2 separate regions of the Homo sapiens genome follow, and region 1 is linked to region 2. Evidence: fine-mapped expression QTL. A gene starts in region 2. The other region holds a variant in brackets. All regions are shown on one strand. Distances are from middle to middle.

Region 1 (12,498 bases), 530 kb after region 2:
AAACAAACAAACAAACAAAAAACTATTGTGAGACCTTTGTCAAAGAATACAAAATTTCACTTAGGAGGAATAAGCTCATAAAGAGACCTAATACAACCTGGTGACTAGTTAGTAACAATGTATTGTATTCTTGAAAATTCCTAAGAGAGTAGATTTTAAGTGTTCTCACTTGAAGAACTTCGGAAACAAAAAGATCCTATAAGCTCCCCCTCCCATCCCAAGAAAAAGAGGAAAAAAGTGTTTCATGCAAAGAATCAAGAATCAGAATGATGTTGGACTTCTTAAAAGAAAAGCTAGAAGACAGTAAAACAAAACAAAACAAAACAAAACAAAAAACCTTCAAAATTTTGAGGGGATATGATTTCCAAGAGAAGTTTATATCCAGCCAAAATATGAAACAAATATGTGGGCAGAATAAAGACACTTTCAGGGATACAAAAGCTCAAAAATTTACTTCTCACAATCTGTACCTCAGGAGGCTTCCAGAGGATGTGTCCTACAGAAAATGTGGGTATAAAGTAAGAAAGAAGAAAACGTGAGGTTCAAGATATGACAGTGAAGGGTGAACCTAAAATGACAGCTCTACAGCAGGGCAACTAACTCAGGTTAGAAAAGCTTTAGGAGAGGTACCTTGAAGAATTTGAAATTGAGAGGACATCTAGTGTGTTGCAATGTAAGGAGAGGAAATTCACACAATTGGAGCTTGGGTTGAATTAGTGACAAATACATAAAAAACAAGCAAATGAAAAAACAAGACAATCTTTAGGAAAACAAAAGGAGGAAAGAGAAAAGTAATCATATACTACAAGGCTCAACTGTGAATACTATTTATACAGTCATGATAATATAAACATAAAATATTCAGTTAATTAATAATACAATATGAATAACTATATTAGGAAATTGGGCCAAATACAAGGTTGCATACATGTAGTGGGGGCAGAGCATGTGGTAAAATAGAACCAAATCTTTACATTCTATAGTAAGAAGTGAACAGATAATTCTTAAAGCTAAAAAAATTAAGACACAGAAAATAAAAGCACGTTATTTGGAGATATGGAGTTAAATGCCAAAAAATTAGCTGAAAATGTTGAAAGTGGCATCTCTAAGTGGGGTGAGGATAGATAGGGTGAGGGGCTGCTATTTATTATAATATATCTTAGATAATTAGATACTCTTTAAATTTTGGGCATATAAAACTTTGATAAAGATAAAAACTAAATTCAAAAAAGAAATAGCACAGGTTATGGAATCAGAAGGCATGGGTTTGAGTTCTGGCTCTTACCACTTACCACTGATGTTATCTCGAGCAACTGTCCACAAAATGCTATTAGGCCATAAATGCTATTAGGTCAAAATGCTATTAGGCCATAAAAAACAAGACAAACACTTGGTAAATAAGAAAATTATGGCTGGGCACAGTGGCTCACACCTGTAATCCCAGCACTTTGGGAGGCCGAGGCGGGAAGATCACCTGAGGTTGGGAGTTTGAGACCAGCCTGACCAAAATGGAGAAACCCCGTCTCTACTAAAAATACAAAATTAGCCAGGCATGGTGGCACATGCCTGTAATCCCAGCTACTAGGGAGGCTGAGGCAAGAGAATCACTTGAATCCAGGAGGTGGAGGTTGCGGTGAGCCAAGATCGTGCCATTGCACTCCAACCTGGGCAACAAGAGTGAAACAGGCTGGGCACAGTGGCTCACACCTGTAATCCCGGCACTTTGGGAGGCTGAGGCAGGTGGATCACGAGGTAAGGAGTTCAAGACCAGCCTGGCCAAGATGGTAAAACCTCGTCTTTACTAAAAAATACAAAAAATTAGCTAGGTGCAGTGGCAGGCGCCTGTAATCCCAGCTACTCGGGAGGCTGAGGCAGGAGAATCACTTGAACTCGGAGGGCAGAGGTTGCAGTGAGCCAAGATTGTGCCACTGCGATCTAGCCTGGGTGACAGAGTGAGACTCTGTCTCAAAAAACAAAACAAAACAAAACAAAATTCAATTTTGAGTATGTAGGAATTTCAAGTCACTTTATTTTTATTTTGTTTTTTAAATTTTTTTAATTTTTTATTATTTTTTATTTTATTTTTATTTTTTGAGAAGGAATTTTGTTCTTGTTGCCCAGGCTGGAGTGCAGTGGTGATCCCAGCTCACTACAACCTCCACCTCCCAGGTTCAAGCAATTCTCCTGCCTTAGCCTCCCAAGTAGCTGGGATTACAGGCACCCACCACCACGCCCAGCTAATTTTTGTATTTTTAGTAGAGACAGGGTTTCACCATGTTGGCCAGACTGGTCTTGAATTCCTGACCTCAGGTGATCCACCCACCTCAGCCTCCCAAAGTGCTGGGATTATAGGTGTGTGCCACACGCCTGGCCCACTTTATTTTTTAAAATGGGGTGGGATTTGGAAGACTGAGAGGAGAAAATAGTTAACACAGAAGCCCAAACAGGTTTTTTTTTGGTAGTACAGCTTCAAGAGAAGTAAAGAAAGCTGTAGCAAAAGAAATACTGTACAGGCTCAGAACTGCCTGCCAACATCTGTTAGTGCAGAGGGAGCTAAGCCGATTAAGAGGTGACAGCCAAGTAAGAGTTTTCACTCATGGTTCTGAAGTACATTAACATGTACTGATTCTAGTCTGGGCCAAGGCCATATAACTCTGAGAACTAAGGAGTTTGGGAAATACTACAGTGAATTGGATTGGTTAAATAAAGTTTCCTAGAACATTTTCTATTTCAAGTATTCCAAGAGATACAGTGGGACTATAGAGACAATAGTCAATGATTTGTGTCATTAAATCATGATAGTATTAAACAATTACATAGAGGAATGTACAGGAAAAAAAGCCCCCTAATAAACATATTATCTGCAATAAAGCAATATAAATATATTATCTTCTCACTGAAATTGAGAAAAGGAAAGTTTCTAACAAGGGATGGAAAACAAATTATTTTTACATATTATTGCAAGTTTAAGATATATATGCATATACGGTGTCACTGAAATTCTCTATGTGTCGTCTTTACTGTTTGATGTTTGTGAATGTAAACAATTACAAATGAGAGGCTTTTATAAATTCTTTTTTTATTTTGGAGATGGAGTCTTGCTCTGTTGCCCAGGGTGGAATACAGTGGCGTGATCTTGGCTCACTGCAACCTCTGCCTCCCGGGTTCAAGCAATTCTCCTGCCTCAGCCTCCCGAGTAGCTGGGACTACAGGCATGTGCCACCACACCCAGCTAATTTTTTTGTATTTTTAGAGAGAGAGGGTTTCACCATGTTGGTCAGGCTGGTCTCAAACTGCTGACCTCAAATGATCCTCCCACCTTGGCCTCCCAAACTGCTGGGATTATAGGCGTGAGCCACTGCACCCAGCCTGTAAATTCTTTTAAAAACACAATACCTAGTCTAATTTTCCCCATCAGACTCCAAGTTTCTTAAAATGCCCTATGACTGGGGAGAGTACAATGAACACTTTTTTGTGTCTCCTTGAGGGTAGGGATATTGTGGCATTTTGGTTTTTTTTTTTTTCTGTTTCTATAGCCTTGGTGCCTAGTTCAGGAGTTGGCATAATACATACTCAGTAACTGTGGTAAGCTGATCTCTTCACCCTTTCACTCAGTAAGTAGTATCAAGCAATGGCGAGACAATGGCTGAATAATAATGGTATCTACTGATGAAAAAAAAGAAATGAGGTTTCTCAGAGTTTAGAACCCCATTTCCCCGCACAGCCTTAGCTGGGTTTCTGGGTCTTGCTTACACTTCTAAGTTGTCCATTTCTTTCCTGAGAAAAAAATTTTTTTTTCAAAAGTTGGTACATTCTAGAAAATGCTAGAAAGCAGGGCTGTTTGAATCACTAGAAAAGTTACATGTGGGCTGGGCGCAGTAGCTCATGGCTGTAATCCTAGCACTTTGGGAGGCCAAGGCGGGTGGATCACTTGAGGTCAGGAGTTCAAAACCAGTCTGGCCAACATGGTGAAACCCCATCTCTACTAAAAATACAAAAAAAAAAAAAAAATTAGCTGAGCGTGGTGGTGGACGCCTGTAAACCCACCTACTCAGGAGGCTGAGGCAGGAGAATTGCTTGAACCCGAGAGGCAGAGGTTGCAGTGAGCCAAGATCGCGCCATTGCACTCCAGCCTGGGTGACAGAATGAGACTCTGTCTCAAAAAAAGTTACATGTGAGCCTTCCAGAGAGGCTTGTCTAGACATTTGTCACTATGAGTTTCCCTTCAAACTTACAAGCTATTATGGTAAAAATGCAAACAAAAACACTCTGATATTCTGTGGTTTTTTAAAGTACTGCCATTTTACATGAAATAAATATGTGATATAGAATGTTTACAAAGTTATTAAATGAGATTTGTTAAGTTTCAGTACCAAATTACAATAGTAATTACAAATTATTAAGCATCTACTATCTTTCAGGTAACGAATGGGCCACATGCCTTATAAACATGTCATTTAATTCTCACAAAAATCCTGAAAGGATTCAGGCTCACTTTACAACAGAAGAAAATGAAATTCATGAAGATCAAGGTAATTTGCCCAAAATCCCACAGCTTTTGAGCACTGAAACCCAGTCTGAACTCTATAGACCTTGTGCTCTTAACAATCATGGTGCAGTGCTGGGTATTTTTTTAAAAATCTTGAAACCATTTCTAAACATAAAATTAATAGACAATGTAGTCAGTATCAGTCTGCTAGATCCATATTGCTAAAAGCATTACAAGCTCACGCGCTCTTGTAATACCTACTTATGAATCCAACTATAGCTCAGACTAACATCTTTAGGATTTTAAACTGCTAGTGCTCAGGTCTATCTTCACTTACCTGGGGTGGGGGGCAAGAAGAGCTGCCTTTATAAGCAGGCCATTCAATAATATTTATTGATTGTTCACCATGGGACATAACTGGGCCAGGTGCTGGGAATAAAATAAACAAAACAGATATGATCCCTTCCCTTATGGAGCTTATAGTCCAGTAGGGGAAAGAGTAAATAAGAGAGCAGGCTGCTATATGTAGGCAAACAAAAGGATATAGTTTATATTAAAAGGTCAGGATAGGTCTTTCTCAGAAATAACTTGAAGGCTAAGCTGGATTTGGAATATATGTGTTCGGAGGAGAAAGGGACTAGAGAGCATTTCAGGCAAGGAAGCTGTGTAAAGACCTGCAGCAGACCGGGCGCGGTGGCTCACGCCTGTAATCCCAGCACTTTGGGAGGCCGAGGCGGGCGGATCACGAGGTCAGGAGATCGAGACCATCCTGGCTAACACAGTGAAACCCCGTCTCTACTAAAAAACACAAAAAATTAGCCGGGCGTGGTGGCGGGCGCCTGTGGTCCCAGCTACGCGGGAGGCTGAGGCAGGAGAATGCCGTGAACCCGGGAGGCGGAGCTTGCAGTGAGCCGAGATCGCGCCACTGCACTCCAGCCTGGGCGACAGAGCGAGACTCCGTCTCAAAAAAAAAAAAAAAAAAAAAAAAAAAAAAAAAAAAAAGACCTGCAGCAGGAATGAAATACTCCAAAAAGTCTAAACATGAATTTGATCCTGCCCTCTTAGTATCAGTATCTCCTATAAATTTTCTGAGAAGAAAGTGCAAGGGGAAGAAAGGTGGCTCCAGAAACATCCAGAGATTAGCCATTCCCCTATAAGTCAGTAAGAACGCCATTTGAGGAAGTTGGGTCTAGAAGATCTAGACTATTAAACAATATCTGGGAAACAGTGGACTGCAGGCTGTTCTGGCACACAACAGCAGCCAAGAGGCATGCCAAATATATAATCTGAAAAACTTACGATTCTTTAAAAAATGCTTATGATGGAAATGCATAGCATTCTATGGGAGGAATTTAAAACTCAATTATTTAGGTGAATCTTAGCCTTCAAATGTAACAAAATATAGGTATTGAGAAGTTTAAAATTTCATATTAAGAATGAAAACTTGACAGGAGTGATGGCTGGTACCTGTAATACCAGCTACTTGGCAGGCTGAGGTGGGAGAATTGCTTGAGGTCAAGAGTTTGAGACCAGCCTGGGCAACATAATGAGACCTAATTTCTCTCTCTCTCTCTCTCTCTCTGTTTTTTTTTGGGACAGAGTGAGACTCTGGAGTGCAGTGGCATGATCATGGTTCACTGTAGCCTCGACATCCCGGGCTCAAGTGATCCTCTCACCTCAGCCTCCCAGGTAGCTGGGACTAGAGGCTCACAAGCCACCATGCCCAGCTAATTTTTAAAAAATTGTTTGTAGAGATGGGGTTTCACCATGTTACCCAGACTGGTCTCAAACTCCTGGGCTCAAGCCATCTGTTTGCCTCAGCTTCCCAAAGTGCTAGGATTACGGTCCTGAGCCATGGTGCCCCCCAGTATCTTTTTAAAAAGAAAGAAAGAAAGAGGCCAAGTGTGGTGACTCATGCCTCTAATCCCAGCACTTTGGGAGACTGAGGC[AG/A]GGAGATTGCTTTTGAGCTCAAGAGTTCGAGGCCAGCCTGGGCAACATTGTGAAACCCTGTGCCTACAAAAAATACAAAAAGTTAGCCAGGCATGGTGGCGAGTGCCTATAGTCCCAGTTACTCGGGAGGCTGAGGTGGGAGGATTGCTTGAGCCCAGGAAGCAGAGGTTTGCAGCGAGCCAAGATTGAGCCACTGCACTCTAGCCTCGGCAACAGAGTAAGACCCTGTCTCAAAAAAAAAAAAAAAAAAAAAAAAAGAAACAAAAGGAAAGAAAAATCTTCTTAAAACATTAATCTAATCTAATTATGACACTATCTTGTTTACTTCAACAACTTCCTCACTGTTTTGGGCAAGAATTCAAACTCTTTCGTCTGATATCTGGCTCTTCTCCAGTCCTATCTGCTTCTCTGCCTCCTATATTCACACTCCAGCTATAGAAAGTTACCAGTATACATCATACTTTTTCAGAGGATAAAGGATCCAGCTTAAAGGACTTCCATTGGCCAAACTGACAATTTAAGCATGAAAACATTTAAAAATGGATGGTAGGTAGCTAATAGTTACAGTTAATTTAAAATAGAATTATGTTGTAAATATAGTTAACAAGAGTATTGTACATTTCAAAATTGCTAAGAGAGTAAATTTCAAATGTTCTCACCATGAAAAATGTTAAGTATTTGAGGGATGGATATGTTAACCTGTTTAATTTAATTATTCCACATTGTATACATAAATTATAACATCGCTTTGTATCCCATAAATTTATACAATTATAAATTGTTAAATTTACAATAAAAGAAAAGGAATTGTGAAAATCTGTGCATTTATAATGATACTTAAGACATAAAAACTATATATAAAGTGTATTAAAAAGTTTTATCAATGCCTATGAAAAGGGAGAAAATTTAAAGAAAAGTTCTAATGACAAGAAGAATAAGTTGATTTTTTAATTGATTTTTATAAATAGAGTACAAAGGAAACAAAAAAATTAATTATGAAACATATATCTGTTTATAAAATCTGGTTATATATTTATTTCTATCTGTGTAGGCAGAAAAGAATGAATACAGGGAATTGTAAGTAAACCAGACCTTGCAAAAGCAGAAACTATATGAAGAACAAAAAGACTGATCAGCATGAGTATCATCACATAACAATAATGTAGAAAAAGTATCCAACAATTAATCTGCACCAGTGATCATCTGAACACAAAAAGCAACTAGAAACAAGTTTCAATGTTATACTGGAAAATTATAATTTAACCAAACGTCCTAAAATATTAACTAGATTATTCAAATCCTAAGTATGAAGGCTCTCAGTGGCTCTATTAATAATAGTAAGAAATTAATAAGCTATACATAGTCTAATAATTGTAACAAAATATGCCAACATATAATAATGACAAAATAGTGGGTTACATAATGCTGGCAAAGCAAAACCTAAAGAATACATCATTCCAGAGGAAAACTTCAAGGAAAAAAACACATCATTCAGGAAAATTTAAACCCATAAAAGGACTACTAGAATCCTAGGAAAATAAGTATCAAAATAAGTATGTTACAATCAAAATAAGTATGTTATAATCCTAGGAAGATAAGCATGATTAACAACTATCAGCTGGGCACAGTGGCTCATGCCTGTAATCCTAGCACTTTGGGAGACAGAGGCAGGTGGATCACGGGGTCAAGAGATAAGTAAGAGACCATCCTGGCCAACATGGTGAAACCCCGTCTCTACTAAAAATACAAAAATTAGCTGGGTGTGGTGGCATGTGCATGTAGTCCCAGCTACTCGGGAGGCTGAGGCAGGTGAAGTGCTTGAACCCGGGAGGTGGAGATTGGAGTGAACCGAGATGGTGCCACTGCACTCCAGCCTGGCAACAGAGCGAGTCTCCATCTCAAAAAAAAGAAAGAAAAAGAAAAAGAAAAAGAAACAACTATCACATTTATTGGTCATTTAGGGTGACTGAAGCATTGAAAGAACCAGCCATACTAAATTTGTGATAGTAACTTTAATTCCTTTTCTCCCCCCACCGAGATGGAGTCTTGCTCTGTTGCCTAGGCTGGAGTGCAGTGGCGTGATCTCGGCTCACTGCAACCTCCCCTTCCTGGGTTCAAGCAATTCTCCTCCCTCAGCCTCCTGAGTAGCTGGGATTACAGGCACACGCCACCACGCCCAGCTAATTTTTGTATTTTTAGTAGAGATGGGGTTTCACCATGTTGGCCAGGCTGGTCTCAAACTCCTGACCTTGTGATCCCCCTGCCTCGGTCTCCCAAAGTGCTGGGATCACAGGTGTGAGCCACCGCACCTGGCCTATTTTTAAAAGTTAATTTTAAATTGGATTTTTGTTTGTTTGTTTCTTAGATATACGTATTCAATTATTTGAGCCTTAAATACAATGCAAATAGTTCTGAATGTTCCTCTCTGCATACAAAAGGACATTAAAGAATCTAATCAATAGTTCTAAGCATTTTCCATTCAGGGACTGTGTCTTATTTGACTTTATGTCATCAACTCCTAGCACAGAATCTGTGATGTATAGTAGATTCTTAATAAATGTTTTTTCAGGGAAAGCATGAGTGAGAATAATAATTACGAAAACTCAACAAACAAAACAAACTCCAATCTTCCTTACCTGCTTTTTTTTTCCCCTTTTGACCGGGAACAGGTTCTATGCTATCTTGGCCTTTTCTCATCAACATAGCAAGTGATGCATCATAAGCTCTAAACAGGTCCACAACCTCATGTAAGGCAACGTCTGTTATCAGATCACAGCTCAGCACCAGCACATCTGTCTGTTAAATGGAGATGGGAAAAGTCAATATCATAAAGGACAATGGATTACACAAATCATCACAAGACAAAATTAGGATGGCTTAAAACCACACAAATCAGACAATACTCTTCAAGCATTTTTCATAGCCAAACAAGTAAAATAAATGGGGTTGTTCTCATTGAATTGTGCTGGTATAGGGTCTGGAAACTCTACCTCTCCCTTGTGTACCTCAGGAACTGTGTGGGCAGTCCCTGAGACATCTCTGGAACCCTAGGTTCTAAGAAACAGTCTGAAAACCACCACATTGTCTATTTCTATGACTATGGAATATATGATCTTATATTTATACATCTCTTTATAGTTTAAAAGAGCATTTTCACATAGTTTGATGACTTAATATGGCAAAGAACAATCACTTTACTACAGTACTAGGAAATAACAGGATGAACAGAATACAATGCTTCATTCTTAGGAACTTAACATTCTATAGTAAATAATTACAATGTAACCTCAGGTATGTACAAGGCACCCATTCAATCTTATAAAAATAGCATAAGAATGACAGAAAGGCATTGTTATTATTAATATTACTGGCCTCTATTTTTATAGCTGAGAAAAATAAGGCCTGTTACCAGTGTCTGACACACAGTTGGTATTTAATAATTGTTTAACAAATGAATGAATAAATCAACGAAGAAAAGGTTTTCTCTTATTGGTGGGCTTTCTGATTTTATATATATATATATATATATATATATATATATATATATATTTTTTTTTTTTTTTTTTTTTTTTTTTCCAGACAGGGTCTTACTCTGTCACCTAGACTGGAATGCAGCGGTGCGGTCACAGCTCACTGCAGCCTCGACCTGCCAGGCTCAAGTCATCCTCCTGCCTCAGCCTCCCAAGTAGCTGGGACTACAGGTATGTACCACCACACTTGGCTAATTTTTACATTTTTTGTAGAGATGGTGTCTCCCTATGTTGCCTAGGCTAGTCTCAAACTCCTGGGTTCAAATGATCCACTCACCTCGGCCTCCCAAAGTGTTGGGATTATAGGCATGAGCTACCATGCCTGATTATAATTCTAATATCTCAGATTAATTATAATAAAAACTAACAATGATAACTAATGTTTACTGAATGCTTACTATTGGCCAGGAATTGTGATAACACTTTGCAAACATTATTTATTTTATTTTATTTTATTTTATTTATTTATTTTTTGAGACAGAGTCTCCCTCTGTTGCCCAAGCTGGAGTGCACTGGCAAGATCTCGGCTCACGGCAAGCTCCGCCTCCCGGGTTCATGCCATTCTCCTGCCTCAGCCTCCTGAGTAGCTGGGACTACAGGCGCCCGCCACCACGCCCGGCTAATTTTTTTTGTGTTTTTAGTAGAGACGGTGTTTCACCGTGTTAGCCAGGATGGTCTTGATTTCCTGACCTCGTGATCCACCTGCCTTGGCCTCCCAAAGTGCTGGGATTACAGGTGTGAGCCACCACGCCCGGCCTTATTTTTTATTTTAATTTTATTTTTAAATTAAAAAAAAAATAGAGACAGGGTCTCACTATGTTTCTCACTATGTAGTCCAGGTTGGTCTTGAACTGGTGGGCTCAAACAATCCTGTCTCAGCCTCCCAAAGTGCTGAGATTACAGGTGTGAGCCACCACGCCTGGCCAAAAACATATTTCAATCTTCACAACAACCATATGCAGGAAGAACTATCTATATCTATATCTATATCTATATCTATATCTATATCTATATCTATATCTAAATTTTTGTTTTTTTGAGACAGGGTCTTGTTCTGTTACCCAGGCTGGAGTGCAGTGGCATGATCATGGCTTACTGCAGCCTCGACTTCCTGGGCTCAAGTGATCCTCCCACCTCAGCCTCCCTAGTAGCTGGGACTACAGGCGTGCCCCACCACACCTGGCTAATTTTTATTTTTATTTTTAGTAGAGACAGGGTCTTCCTATGTTTCCCAGGCTGGACTCGAACTCCTGGACTCAAGCAATTTGCCCACTTTGGCCTCCCAAAGTGCTAGGAGTACAGGCGTGAGCCACCGCGCCTAGCCCAGAGCTGTTATTATTAGCACTTTACCAACGAAGAAACAGATTTATAGTAGTTATGTAACTAAGATTTAACAATTAGTAATGGCTATTTGTATAACTAAAGAATCTGTATTACTGAATAGTGTTAAAGAAATATAGTTTAGGCTGGGCGCAGTGGCTCATGCCTGTATCCCAGCATTTTGGGACGCCAAGGTGGGCGGAGTGCCTGAGTTCAGGAGTTTGAGACCAGCCTGAGCAACACAGTGAAACCCTATCTCTACTAAAATACAAAAATTAGCCGGGCATGGTGGCACATGCCTATAGTCCCAGCTACTCGGGAGGCTGAGGCAGGAGAATTGCTTGAACCCAGGAGGTGGAAATTGCAGTGGGCCGAGATAGCACCACTGCACTCCAGCTTGGGTGACAGAGCAAGACTCTATCTCCAAAGAAAGAAAAAAAAGAAACATAGTTTAGGGCCAGGCACAGTAGCACATGCCTGTAATCCCAGAGGTGCCTCAGGGAAAGGCAGGTTCTGATTTGCCCTTCGTGAATCAACCAAGGCAGCTCCTCTTTTATTAATTTTATTTTCCAGGCTTCTGGATAAGCTTTGTCTTGGAAAACCAATTATGCTACTTTAAAAAAGTCTAGGCTGGGCAGAGTGGCTCACACCTGTAATCCCAGTGCTTTGGGATGCCAAGGCAGGAGGACTGCATGAGCCCAGGAGTTCAAGGTTAGAGTGAGCTATGATCACATCACTGCACTTCTGCCTGGGTGACAGTGCAAGATGCTGTCTCAAAAAAAAAAAAAAAAGGCCTGGCACAGTGTCTTGCACCTGTAAGCCAAGCTACTCTGGAGGCTGAGGCAGGAGCATCACTTGAGGCCAGGAGTTTGAGGCCAGCCTGAACAACACAGTAAGACCCCATCTCTAAAAATACATAAAACATTTTTTAAATTAGCAAATAAAATTTTTTAAAAGTTAGCCAGGTGTGGTGGCATGCACTTATAGTCCCAGCTACTTGGGAGGCTGAGGCAAGAGGATTGCTTAAACCTCAGAGGAGTTCAAGACTCTAGTGAGCTACAATTACTCCACTGGATTCCAGCCTGGGTGACAGAGTGAGGCCTTGTCTCAAATAAATAAATAGTCTGGAAAACATTGGACCAAATTATTTTGGGTTCAAGAATGAAGTGAGTCTACATGTATTTTTTTTTTTGTAAGTACTCCAAACTT
Region 2 (12,498 bases):
TACAGCTTCTTCCTACTGCCTTGATTCATACATAGTATGTAGTCAGTAAATATTTGTTGCTAGATTGCCAGACGGTCAATCTTGGCATTGATATTGGCTGACTGTCTTTGGGAGCTACCTGCAACTACTTCAGAAAGTTTCTTGTTGGAGTCAATATGAAAAATGGAGGATTTATTATTTCTACTGTGAATTTATTTTTTCTTTTTGGGTGATAAAACTGGAAATCTCAAAAAGTCTCCTGGTTTATGTGTTGGGCATAGATGAGGGAGATTCCTTTTGAAAGTGAGTGTAGAAAAGCAGACTTTTTATTTTGTGAAGGTTTTTTGAAGCTTACAAGTCCTTATATATATATTTTAAAAGTCCAGATTGCTCAAACTTGAAGTTCCCCTCCTCCTTGCTCCTCCTTCAGGGCCTTTTTCTAAACCTACTTCCCTTAAAATGACTTTTATTGATTTTCACTCAATGAGAGTTATTCTTCAGAATGAGGATGGAAGGGTCAGAGAGAGAAATTTACCCTGTGTTACCTGTGGAATAGGTGTGCATTTGTATCCAGTCTTGCTTTATTTGTTCTGTTTCCTGTATCCAGAAACCCACACACTGGGGATCATTAGGTCCTCTGTGTCTTGGTCGGAGCTTGAGTACAGTATACTAATAGATCAATTTATGTGTTCATTCATTCAGCAAACATTTATTGAGCAGGCATGTCCTAGGCATTGGAGATACTAAGATGAATAAGACATAGTCACTGCCCTCAGTGACCTCCAGATGTACAAGAAGACACCAGCCTGAAGGCAGCTGGGGTCAGGGAACAAGGCAACTGAATATCCTCCATCAGGAAATCCTAAGAGAATAAAAAGACCAGTCTTGTAACATAAATATAAACATCTAATCAAATTAGCCAATTAGAAAAACATTTTTAAGAAAAGGCAATCTTTTACCAATTTGTCCTATGTATCTTTTGCATTTTTTCTCCCTAATTTCTTTGTCTCCAGTCTTACTCGTCTCCAGTCTACATTTAAAATTGCCTCCAATTTTATTTTTCTAAACCCTGATCTGATCATGTCATTCCTGTTTTGAGAATTTTCACTCATTCATTCTGCACTTTTTATCAATCACCTACTGGATGTTTCCAGTGAGTGTGAAGTGTTTGGGATGCAGTGGTACGCAAGCAGGCCCTACCTTCAAGAAGCTTTAGAATCTAGACCAGGTAGTACTTTCTGAATCTTGTCCTTTTATCTAAATCAGTTGAGTCCGACAGACACCAGTATCTGTTGTGCTAAGTACCACGCAAAACAACTAAGACAGAATTCTGCTTTAAGCAGATCAGAGTCTATTAGAGGAATCTGAAAACAATCGATAATTCCAGTACAATGTGATAAATGAATAGATGCATGCATAGACTGCTATGATAATCAGATTTGAGGAGAAGAGAGGCTGGTGGGCAGGGTGGCTTCCTGGAAGAGTCCATCCCAAACAAAGTCTTGAAGTATAAATAGGAGTTGGCTAGACACTGGGAGTGTCCAGTTAGTTCCTTAATGTGACAAACAAGATCTTTCACAGTCCATTAATCTATTTTTCCAGTCTCCCCTTATATCTTCTACATCTTTTTTTTCAGCTCCCAGCCCAATTTCTGAATGTTTTTCAAATTAGGAATGAATGCCCCTGGTTTATTTAGTGTTGTGCTTTGGATGTGAGAAAGCACCAAATAAATGTGGTGCATCTTTCTGGAGCATCAGTTCTATCAAATGATAAGTAATTTAAAACATGGTTTTATATTAAAGCTTAATATATTTGTGGAATTGAAGGCAAAATTTTCATTCATTTTTCAAGATAAAACAGGATACATAAATTTCAAGCTAGTGGCAAGCCATTTTAGGCTTGCCCTTAGACATCACCACCTGCACCACCTCTTTCTTGAGGAAAAATTTGAGATGTACTATCGGAATGTGGCAGGAAATTTCATGTGCCTTTGCATACGCTATTTGCTCATCCTGGAGTGCTCTTCCTATTTTTCTCCCTTGATAAACTACTTATCCTTCAAAGCCCAACTTAAGTGTCATTCCATATAACAGTCATTTTTAACGAAGCTTAAATGTCATCCCATATGATAGTTATTTTTTAAAACACCCACTTCTGTCTCTGCCTCCTTTCCTAATAGCTCCAGGCAGACTCAGCACCTCCTTCTTTTGTGTTTCTACCACCCTATACTCAGAATATCCATTATAGCACTGCTTTCATTGTGCCATATGTATTTGCTTTCCAATCCATCTCTGCTGTTGGACTATAAACCTCTCTAGGGCAGGCACTATTATTTATCTTTCTATTCTTAGTGACTGGCACTTGGTAGACACTCAATAAATGTTTGTTGAATTTGTGGACCATTCCTTACTCTGCATCACCTCTGTTCTTATATAAAGTGATATCTCCTTTACTTCTCATCTTCAGGGAATGATGTGTTACACAAAAGTATATTTTCCAGACAACTGAAATTTACTTCTTAAAGTATCAAAATCTTCTGTTTAAATCATTTTGGTAGGAATTTATTTTTCTATATTTTCACACGTGTGCTTACTCTCATAAGTAAAATATACTAAGTGTAATGTGTTCCTTGATGACCTATCCCCAAAAGTATCAGGATATGTTTGGTTGGAATTCATGACATCCGCTGGGAGCACTGATGGGATAGGGCTTTTTGCCTTCACACCAAATAACCCTATTTTGTTGTAGTTTTTGAGTTATGGTGCTTGCTTCTTATAGTTCGGTCACCATTTCTCATTGTCAGTGTTCTTGCTCTAACAACACTACCCTTTGCTCTTTTTATATACGTTTTAACGGATATTAAAATTACAAAACTAATATATGTTCACTGAAAACAAACAGAAGTCTATGGAGTAAAAAGTCAAAGTCCTCCCTTCATTCCTGTCTAACCCCCCACCCTGTCACGTCCACACTTTCACTCCCTAGCCATAACCATTGTTAACGGTTTAATGTATCCCTACAGGCCTTTTTCTGTCAATGTGTGTGTACACGTATACGGACAAATATCAAATCATATTGTACATACTGTTGTATGACTTGCTTTTCTCACTCGACAGTATATAATAGGTATCCTTCTATGTCAATACATCCTAGTCTATATCATTCTTTTTAATGGCTGCCCCCTTTTAATTTGACAATCTTAATCAGCTGTGAATGGGAAAGCCAAATAATCAAGCTTATTAGAATTGTACCTAAGAAAGAATAAATCGGCTCTGAATGAAGGCTTGTGTAATTCTCCTAGGAGGGAAATGTGTTAACTTTAGTGCATGGACTTTGTAATGTTTATTTTGGCTATTCTGGGACCCTTTTTGCTTATTTCCTGCTTCATTGTGTTTTGGATAGCTGAGGTTGCTGGACATATGACCTGTGAATTAGTGAGGTATTACATATTCAATTTTGCATTACATAATTTTGCTCTGATTTTATGAGGGATTTGCATTTAATTTATTCGTTTAGATTGCTGTTATAGACAGTGATTAATTCTAGTTTCTGAGTACTTGCATCGTAGTGAGGACCACTGCATGTGGTAACAGCTAAAAATATTTGGCTTGATGATTGAACAGGCCTTCTTATCTGTATCATCTATCTGTGAGAATGTGCACTGGATCTACGGGAACTCTCTAAGTTAGTCTGAGGGAGCCTTTTACTACTGATAAACATTAAAGTACTGACAACATCTTTTGCTATAAATAATAAAATCTTATTTAGGATTTATATAGAGTCTTCCTTCTGCCTTCATCCACCATACTAAAATGGCTAAATCCTGTTGATTCTACCTTTTAGATCTCACTGTAATGTGTCCCCTCCTCTCCACTCACTCTGCCCCAGTACCTTGGTTCAGGCCCTACTTCATCTCAACTGAATTACTTGAGATAGACTTTTTGATTGGCCTCCCTGCCTCTTGTCTAACCTCCACCTTGTCCACCCAGGAACTAGTGCTTGTTTTAAAACAGAAATCCTACCCTGTCACACCCCTAAAACCCTCTAGGGGTTTCTCATCATCTGTAGGATAACATCCACTTTCCTTAGCTTAGTATACAAAGCCTTTTGTGATTTGGCCCACTTCTCCTGCCTATCTCTTGCTGCTCAATGTTTCATATTTCAATTTTGAGGGAAATCAGTGGCTTATAATTCCTTTAACACACCAGGCAAGAGAGTTCTCGATAAATGCTTGTTAAATGAATGAATGAAATACCTTATGTAGCTAGGGTGACCATTCAATCTGCTTGGCCCAGGATGGCCCTTGTTGACATTTGTCATCCCAGTGTAATTATTAAAAGTGTCCCTTTTTTATCATCAAACTTGTCTCAGTTAGATCAATAAATTCTAAGGTCATCCTTATTACAGTGGTTATCAAATTGATTTCTAACTCTTTCTTTGTCTCCTCTACTAGATGGTGAGCTCTTTGAGGACAGGAGTTCATTTTTATATCCTCGTTTATTCATTCAACTAAGAGACTGATGCTGTAAGGTGCTTAGGGTATGATGTAGAATGCAACAAACATGGTTCTTGACTTCATGAAGTTTACAATCCAGCAGGAAATAATAATTTAGTGGAAAGAATAGAGCCTAACATAATAAATGCTGGTGTATGAATGAATGATTAAACATGGATTAGAAGTTCCTCAACAGGCCAGGCGTGGTGGCTCACCCCTGTAATCCCAGCACTTTGGGAGACCGAGACAAGCGGATCACTTGGGGTCAGGAGTTTGAGACCAGCCTGGCCAACATGGTGAAACCGTATTTCTACTAAAAATTATTTGGGCATGGAGGGGCATGCCTGTAATCCCAGCTACTTGGGAGGCTGAGGTAGGAGAATCGCTTGAACTCGGGGCGGAGGTTGCAGTAAGCCAAGATCACACCACTGCACTCCAGCCTGGGCGAGAGAGTGAGATTCCATGTCAAAAAAAATAAATAAATAAAAATAAAGTTCCTCAACAAATAATCCTGATATCACGAATTATAGAAATAGTTGTAAATGTAGAACTCTAAGTGATCAAATTAACAATTTATTTAGAGTTGCCAATTAAAATTTTAAAATACCAACAGCACACATATACATAAACATACTTAATATTTAGATGCTACCTTAATGTTAAACATAAGTAAAAAGGACAATGAAATAATAGCAAGAATGAGATTTTGAGTCTCATTCTTTTTAGACAATTTATAATCCTATGTGGTTCTCTGTAAAGTGGATTATCAGTGTGTACTCCATTTCTCCCCACCCTCCCTTTTTTTTTTCCAGATGAGAAATCTGAGGTTTTAGACACTTAACTACAAAACAAAAGAATGACTTTTTTTTTTTTTTTTTTTTTTGTCACCCAGGCTGGAGTGCAATGGTGTGATCTCGGCTCACTGCAACTTCCGCCTCCCGGGTTCAAGCGATTCTCCTGCCTTGGCCTCCTGAGTAGCTGGGATTACAGGCGCATGCCACCACGCCCGGCTACTTTTTGTATTTTTAGTAGAGACAGGGTTTCACCATGTTTGTCAGGCTGGTCTTGAACTCCTGACCTCTTGTTCCGCCCGCCTCGGCCTCCCAAAGTGTTGGCATTGCAGGCGTGAGCCACCGCGCCCGGCCAGGAATGACTTCTTAAACCAGGATTTGATTTTGGTTGAACTTTGCTTTCAGAACTAGAACTACCTGCTATCCAAGACTTGTTAACCACGTTTTCATGGGCAAATTACAAAACCCTTTCAACCCCAGTTTCCTCTTCTATAAACTAGTGGTAATATTATTATCTCCAGAATTAATCTTAGGAGTAAATGAAATTATGTAAAGGCATTTAGTCTCATAACCGGGCTCCTAGAAAGCACTCAGGAATGTTAGTTCTCTATCCATTTCCCCTGTTTATCTTTGTGTTTGATGAATTATAGGATGATATGAAATGATCTGAAATGAACTGTAATATAAACATCAATAAAACACCAATAAAAAATTTTATTCTCACATCTGGATGCTATACTAGGCCTTCACCTCCTCCAAAAGTTACAGTTTTATTAATATTCATTTATTATTTATTATTATAGTCAAAGACCCAGAGAAGCATTCCAGGAACAAAGCAGCAGGTAAGATTTTTCTGGGAAAAGACAGAGATTTTGAGGGACCCAGGATTTGGGGGTCATTTAAGCAGCAGTGGATGTCAGTCTTCAAGCTTTGCCCATTTACTCTTGGTCCCTTTTGGTTCAGGAAAGGAAGAACAACAAGCACGAAACCATTCACTGAGACCTTTGCGGGTGGGGGAGGAGGGATGTAAACAAAAGCCAACGCTCTCTTTAGTTCACAATGGCTCGCGACCCCAAGACTTCCAAGCTCTTTGGTGAGGGCCAGCAGGTCTGTTCTCCAGGAGTGCCCTGGGTCTGGACTTCATTTCCCAGAGTCCCTTAGTGCCCTAATGTATTCAGTGCTCAGAGTGCCTGTATGTGTGTGAGTGTGAGAGAATGTGTGCGTGCGTGTGTGTGTGCGCGCGTGTGTGTGTCTCCGAGTCCCTGGGAGAGTGGAGGCTCATTCACTGATTAGATCCAGCGCTGAGAGGCAGCACTGCTCCTTCTCTCACGCCAACTGAGTCTCTTGATCTGTACATGCAATCCCAGGCAGCTCGCGAACACAAACCCGGGGCCAGCCGCCTACTGCTGCTGCTGCTGCTGCCGCTGCCGCCGCCGCCGCCGCCGCTGCCTCCGCCGGCTCTGCGAACCCGGGACTTTTCATGCACCACACTCTCCGCCTGCTTCCCTCCGTGTCCTGAAAAGTGCGACCGTTCTCCCAAGGAATTTCCACGGCAAGTATGGAGATCAGAAAGGGGTGTGGACGTGTGTGCGTACCCAAGAGGGGTGGGTGCGAGGGCGGCCGGCTTGTTCAGGAACCTGGCTAACTTTCCGGGTCCGTTTCCTAGGGATTCGGGCGGTTCCCTCTGGACGGGGGCAGGGACTGGGACTCGGACTGGCGCGTCTTGGATCATCGCGACGGAGCCTCTCGGCATCGGCGCCCTGCGCGCTCCGTGCGCTGCCTCGCTCAAACTTTCCGTCTTGAGTTTTCCTTAATGTGTTTTATTTGGGGAGGGGGGGAGGTGCAAGGGGGAGGGACCAGACGCGGGAATTGGACAAGTTGGGAGGGTGAGGGCACTGCAAGGGAAGGGAGCAGGACTTCTTTTCTCCGTCTCTTAATAAGCCCCATTCCCACTTTGTTCGGGTCGATATCGAGAATGCCTTCTCGCCGGGCTCTCTGGTGCACCCCCCGGTGATTTCCGGGCTCCCCTATGTACCCCGCGTTGATTTCCGGCGAGGCCAGGGCTGGGTGGTACTCAGTGGGGAGCCCGAGGCGGCGGGCGGATGGAGAAGGGGCGAGCCGAATGAGAAACTACCCCGACAGCCTCCACCCCACACACAGCCGGCTCCGCGGGATACCCGGGGAGTGGCTGTTTAGCCCTGGACCCCGGGTGCTCGGCTGACTTTTTCCTAGCGGGGGCGGGTGTGAAGGGTGTGGAGGGAGGGAGGTGGGGTAGGATGGATGGATCCTCTGCGGGCAGGAAGGAGGCAGGTGCTAGCATAGAGGCGGACCGTTCTAAACGCCACCGGTAAACTCCCCACTCCTCTGGGCTGGACCGGCCTGGCCGTAGAGTAGCCCGACACGTGGGATCTCCCGGGATTTTCGGGGTCGGGACCCCCTCTCCCAGCGGTTCTACTGAGCAAGGCGGGAGGACGATCGTGGAGACGAGGGCTACTTGACTACTCTACTTGTAGTTTTATTTTTATCTTAGACCTGCCTTAAACTGAGTAACAATTTCTCTTCTGACTTAAGAACAAAACTTTTCAGTGAGCACGCCGGTCGCTGCGGTCCTGCGGCCACTGCCGCCGCGCTTGTCAGCCCGGGCCGAGCGACCTTCTCTGCCCGGAACCCAGCCCCGCCACCGCACTCCGGAGCCTCCGGCCTCCCCCACCCCACCCCCGCCCCCCAACCCGGGGCTTTTCAGGGCTCGGCCTGGGCGTTTCGCCTTTGTGCTTTGTAAGAGAAAGCCTTTTCTTCCAGGGCACAACAAACTTGGGCGGAGAGCTTCCGTGTGGCCCCCCGGGCGAGGCCGCCCACGGTGGTGAGGCCATCCGAGGGGATGCCCGGTTCATCCCCCAGTCCAGGAGCCTCTCCGAGAGCTCGCGGCCCAGGTCGACCCCAGCTGGCGAGGGCGCGCAGGAGTCCCGAAGTAGCGGGGACTAGGGCAGCCAGGAGGCAGGGGGAAAGCTCTCGCTTCCCGTTAAGCACACCCTGCATTCTCGGGTCGTGGATGCAGCTCCAGCGGAGAGCCCGTGTTCCGGCCCTGAGCCAGGCGCGCGTCGCACTGGGTGGGTGCATGGGGCCCGGGCCATAGGTGTGGGGGCACAGCCCTACCTGGCCGGCCCGGGTCGTCTGGGGTCTGCGCCGGCCCACTGGCCCGGGAGCCGCCGAGGGGGAGAGCACCGCACTCGCTGCCCACGACGCCCAGCAGCCACATCTTGCCTCTCGCCTCCGCTCCGGACTCGGCTTGAGGGGCAAAGGGGAGAGAAAGGAAAAATAAAGAAAAAAAAGGGCGGCAGTGAGGAAGCAGCGAGGGGACTGGGGGGAGCAGAGTGGGCAGGGGGGCTTTGCCTTGCCTGGCCTCCTCTTTCCGTCTCGCGGGCTCTTCCTGCAAAGGGGAATGAGCAGAGGGGGGAAAGGCAGAAAGAGCGTCGAGGAAGAGCGGTGCTGGCGTCTTCCGTGCCGATCCCTCCTGGCCCGCAGAGACCCGGCAAAAGTGGCGTGAGTTCGCTTGCTGCGCTTCGAGGCAAGGCTGGGGAAGGCCGAGGACGGGGCGGCGCCGCGTCGCGCCGCTGGTGGCCGACAGGGCCGGGGCCGGGCGCGGAGCGAGCGGGGACACACACCTGTTCTGCGAGCCGCGCGGTGTGCGGCGGCCGGACGGCCGCGGTGCGGGCCGCAGAACCCTCCCTCCCGCACTGCGCATCCGCAGTCCAGGAGCTGGAAGGGCCCGGCAGCCCCGCGCCGGTCCGTATTTGCAGGAGAAGCGGGAGTGGAGGAGTCCGCGGCTGCCCGCTGAAGCGGTGGTGCGCGCGGCGGCGGGACCCGGGTGACCCCCGGGGCGGGGCTGCTCGGGGGCTGGAGGTCCTTGGACTTTGGTCGAAGGCTGGCAGCTCTGAGCCCCTGCCCCGCGGGCCCCGCGCGGCTGCGGACCAGGGGCCCTTGCACGTGTCGGTTCTTCCTGGACTGGCGCTTTGGTTGCCCAAAGTTGGGCGCAGATTGTTTCGTGCGGAGGTTGTTGGGACCCAGAGTATTCTATATACAAAGGCAACCGAGAGCCGGAGGGAGAGGTCGGGCCAAAGAGTAGTGGGCTCGGCTCCGCGTTGGGCCCAAGTTTATGTAGGTTTCGCCTTCACCTCTTCTTCCCCCGTTTTCCCTAAAAGAGTTGATTTTTTTTCCCAGTCGAGACTCTTCCGAGCTGAATAATGCACCCGCTCGCTGAGCCAGTATCCCGCGACCCCGCACTCTCGGACTGGCCCGGGCTGTCTCGGATTCGCACCCTTTGGCCAAGCTGGGCCTGAACCCGGGTCCAAATCTGGGACCATACCCGGCCATGCCTGAAACACAGGCGTCGGCCCTAGCCCGGGAACTGTGTTAGCCTTATGTTCCCTGAGCTCTCGCATATGGTGGTAAAATTTCTGTTAGAGCGGTGTTTCCAAATACCCCCTGGGCATTTGGTGTGCGGGAATTCTCTTCAAGCGAAGAAGTCTGTGAACTTAAAAAAAAAATTTTTTTCCTGCGTTCTTAACAACCCCCCACTACTCTGCCTCATTTCCCATTGTTCTTTGCTTTTTAAGTTCCTTGTTAATTTTTTTAAAAGTTTATTTATGCAAAGGAAAAATATCGTTTAATTTGTTCTATTATTTTAATTCCTGGCTTTTGGAAACGGTTCAGAGACCACAAAACTGTCACCTGTTGTAATAAGCAGAGGAGTGTTGTGTGTGCATTTTAATTGCCAGCAGAGCCGTAGTTTGGTGGGCGCCCTGAGCTCGGCTCCGGGAAAGAGCCCTTTGCAGCTTTCTTTGTGGCAGTCATTTGCAAAGGGGTTTGGCTCTCAGCTACGGCGGAGGCAGAGGGGGCAGCAGCACCGCTTCCTTCTATGCCGATCCCGGGCGCAGGTCAGGAAGCCCAGACCTTGGACTGGGATGGGAGATTACCTACTCTCTGAGACTTTCTCTTGGGCTTTCGGTTTTTCTGTGCGAAAGTGGCTAGTTCGCTCCGCAGAGCGCGGAGCGCTGCGCATCAGCCCAGCCTCAGACATTTTCACGTTCCAAACGCGGACGTCTTCGTTTCATTTGTCTTGGTTCTGGCGTGTTTAACCACGCAATTAGTAATCTCACTAATTATTCAGATAGCTGGCGTTTTGCAATCACTTTAAACCAGGGTCAGGAGTGTGATTTAAGAAACAAACAAACTCCCACAGATACGGAACTGAACCAAACCCATCACGTCAAGGATTTGAAATTTTTTAACTCAATATTTGTTGGTCCCTCCGTCCAACCTCACTGCCTGCCAGACAATTTATTTAGCTTCGTGGATTGATCCCTCCTCCTTGTTTAGTTAATTCAACAAAGACTTTTTGCAATCTGTTTGGAGTTTGTCTGATGCCGTGGAAAAGTAGCTGATGATTTATTTGGTTGCTTTTCGATTTCTGTCTTCAGCCCTTCTTTCTCCTCCTTTCAGCGGGGATGTCAGCTGTTATTACTTCCTATTGATCCCTTTGCAAAGTGAGAAGTGAACTAAAATTAATGTCAATTCCACTGCTCGGATCAATAGCTGGAGTTATTTTAATCTGGATTTGCACGAAGTGCTAAATTAAAAAAAATCAGCATAGAGGCAGAAAAGTAACAGTTACTTACTTTCCCTTTGCCGGGTTCTTCACAGTCACCCAAATGCTCCATCAAGCTGATTATCTTACAATCCATATTTTTTTAATTAAGAGGGTCAGTTAGTTTTCTTATTTTGGGTTCTGTGTTTAAACCCATGACATTTTGACATTGGGAGTGTATTAACTATAGATTTTCATAATGACTGTGGTCAGCTGAAGCCTCATCTATACAAGTTGTTAATGTGAGGAGAGGGTAAGAAAGAAAAGGGAAAAGAAAAAAAAGAAAAAAAGCACTCCCCCCTCCCCCATGGAGACCAACGCCCACGCAATGAAGTAAAAGAGATGTGGCCTGGAAAAATATTGTTGATTTATTTTCAGTGTAATGAAGTTTTCAAATGAATAACCAGGGTTGAGTGATTCACCAGGTTCTGTTGGAGTGTCCGGTGCTGTCACCAGATTCCTAATTTATGAAACTCATTTAAGATAATGAGGTGATCTAGGAAGTAAAAATAGCAAGTGAATCCTGGGGGGGGTCGTATTTTGAGGGGGAAACATTCCTCCCTTCACATTTCTTTTCTCCAGTTTTCCTCATATAATATTGCTTGTTGATAGATAAGTAGCTATTTCTGTTGTGAAGAGCTGCTTAGAACCCTTGGAACAGCCCTAGACCCACTTTCAGAGCGTCCATGTTGTATGACCATTAATCTGACTAGAAAACAGCCAAGAACAGGATTCCCAGACTTGTCAGCCTAACTGGCTGTCCTTGGCAGATCATTCCCTGCACTGCTATAACTTGACAGGAAAGTTATTTAAAATTTGGAAGAGAGAAAAATCCGTTAATGTGAGATACATAATCTGGTAATTTAGCAATGATGTCTATAAGGAAAGATGCCAAATGAGGAAGCAGTCTGATGGTGTCCACTCATCTTCCCAATTAATAACAGTCATTGACATGTCTGCTACAGGATGGGAGAAGGAAATACTCTCTTTGCACTGCATTAAGCCAGGAGGATTCATCTACCGTTTAACTGATGTTTCTCTGTTTGAGGGAATACCAAAGATACTCCAGGTGGGCTTTTTAAAAGGGACGAGGTAGATTTTATTTCTGATATGACTCTCAATTTAAAGGTATAATTTGTAGCAGACGGTGATTTTTGGTTATGCTTTGAGTTTCACTAAGTTTCTATTTCGTGTATATTTTTGACACTAATAAGTCTTGGTATTCATCTTATATTGTCCCGGCTTTTGATATATAGCCCTTCTCCCAGCCCCCACTCAAAATACACTTTGGAATGGAACCACTGACTATGAAAATGTACAACCTAAATTTACAAGGGAAACTGAAAGAAGTCTCTCCGAACTCCAATTTGTTCCGGGGGCCTTTATTGGACATCAGCTCTGACTGGGCCAATAAGCAGAGCAAAATAAGTCAGAAATTTTGTTAACATTTTGTTCTAAATGTTAATGGCAAATCCAAGGCAGTTTACAAATCTACTTAAGAGTGAGTGCATTAGTAACTAAAATCACCGATCTGTTCTTTGCTGCCCTTAGAAGACAGATGCTTCTAGAGAGCGTATGCCAAAGGCACC

What was found. PIP is the estimated chance that this variant, and not a neighbour inherited with it, causes the effect.
Region 1: its variant is the best candidate, but not a certain one, in a credible set for the expression of RNF220 in whole blood (TOPMed, PIP 0.65).

The regions. Positions count from the first base shown.
Region 1 is chr1:44,932,431-44,944,928 of GRCh38, forward strand. EIF2B3 (eukaryotic translation initiation factor 2B subunit gamma) reads right to left here. Exons shown (of 12, transcript NM_020365.5): 4 at 9,076-9,235. It also overlaps the pseudogene RNA5SP47. Among named protein-coding and RNA genes, the nearest start is that of EIF2B3, 48 kb to the right of the region's middle. The variant AG/A (reference allele first, on the strand shown) is at 6,439.
Region 2 is chr1:44,398,710-44,411,207 of GRCh38, forward strand. It overlaps RNF220 (ring finger protein 220), which reads left to right and starts at 6,546. Exons shown (of 15, transcript NM_018150.4): 1 at 6,546-6,821. RefSeq lists enhancers at 7,439-7,961, 9,728-10,404.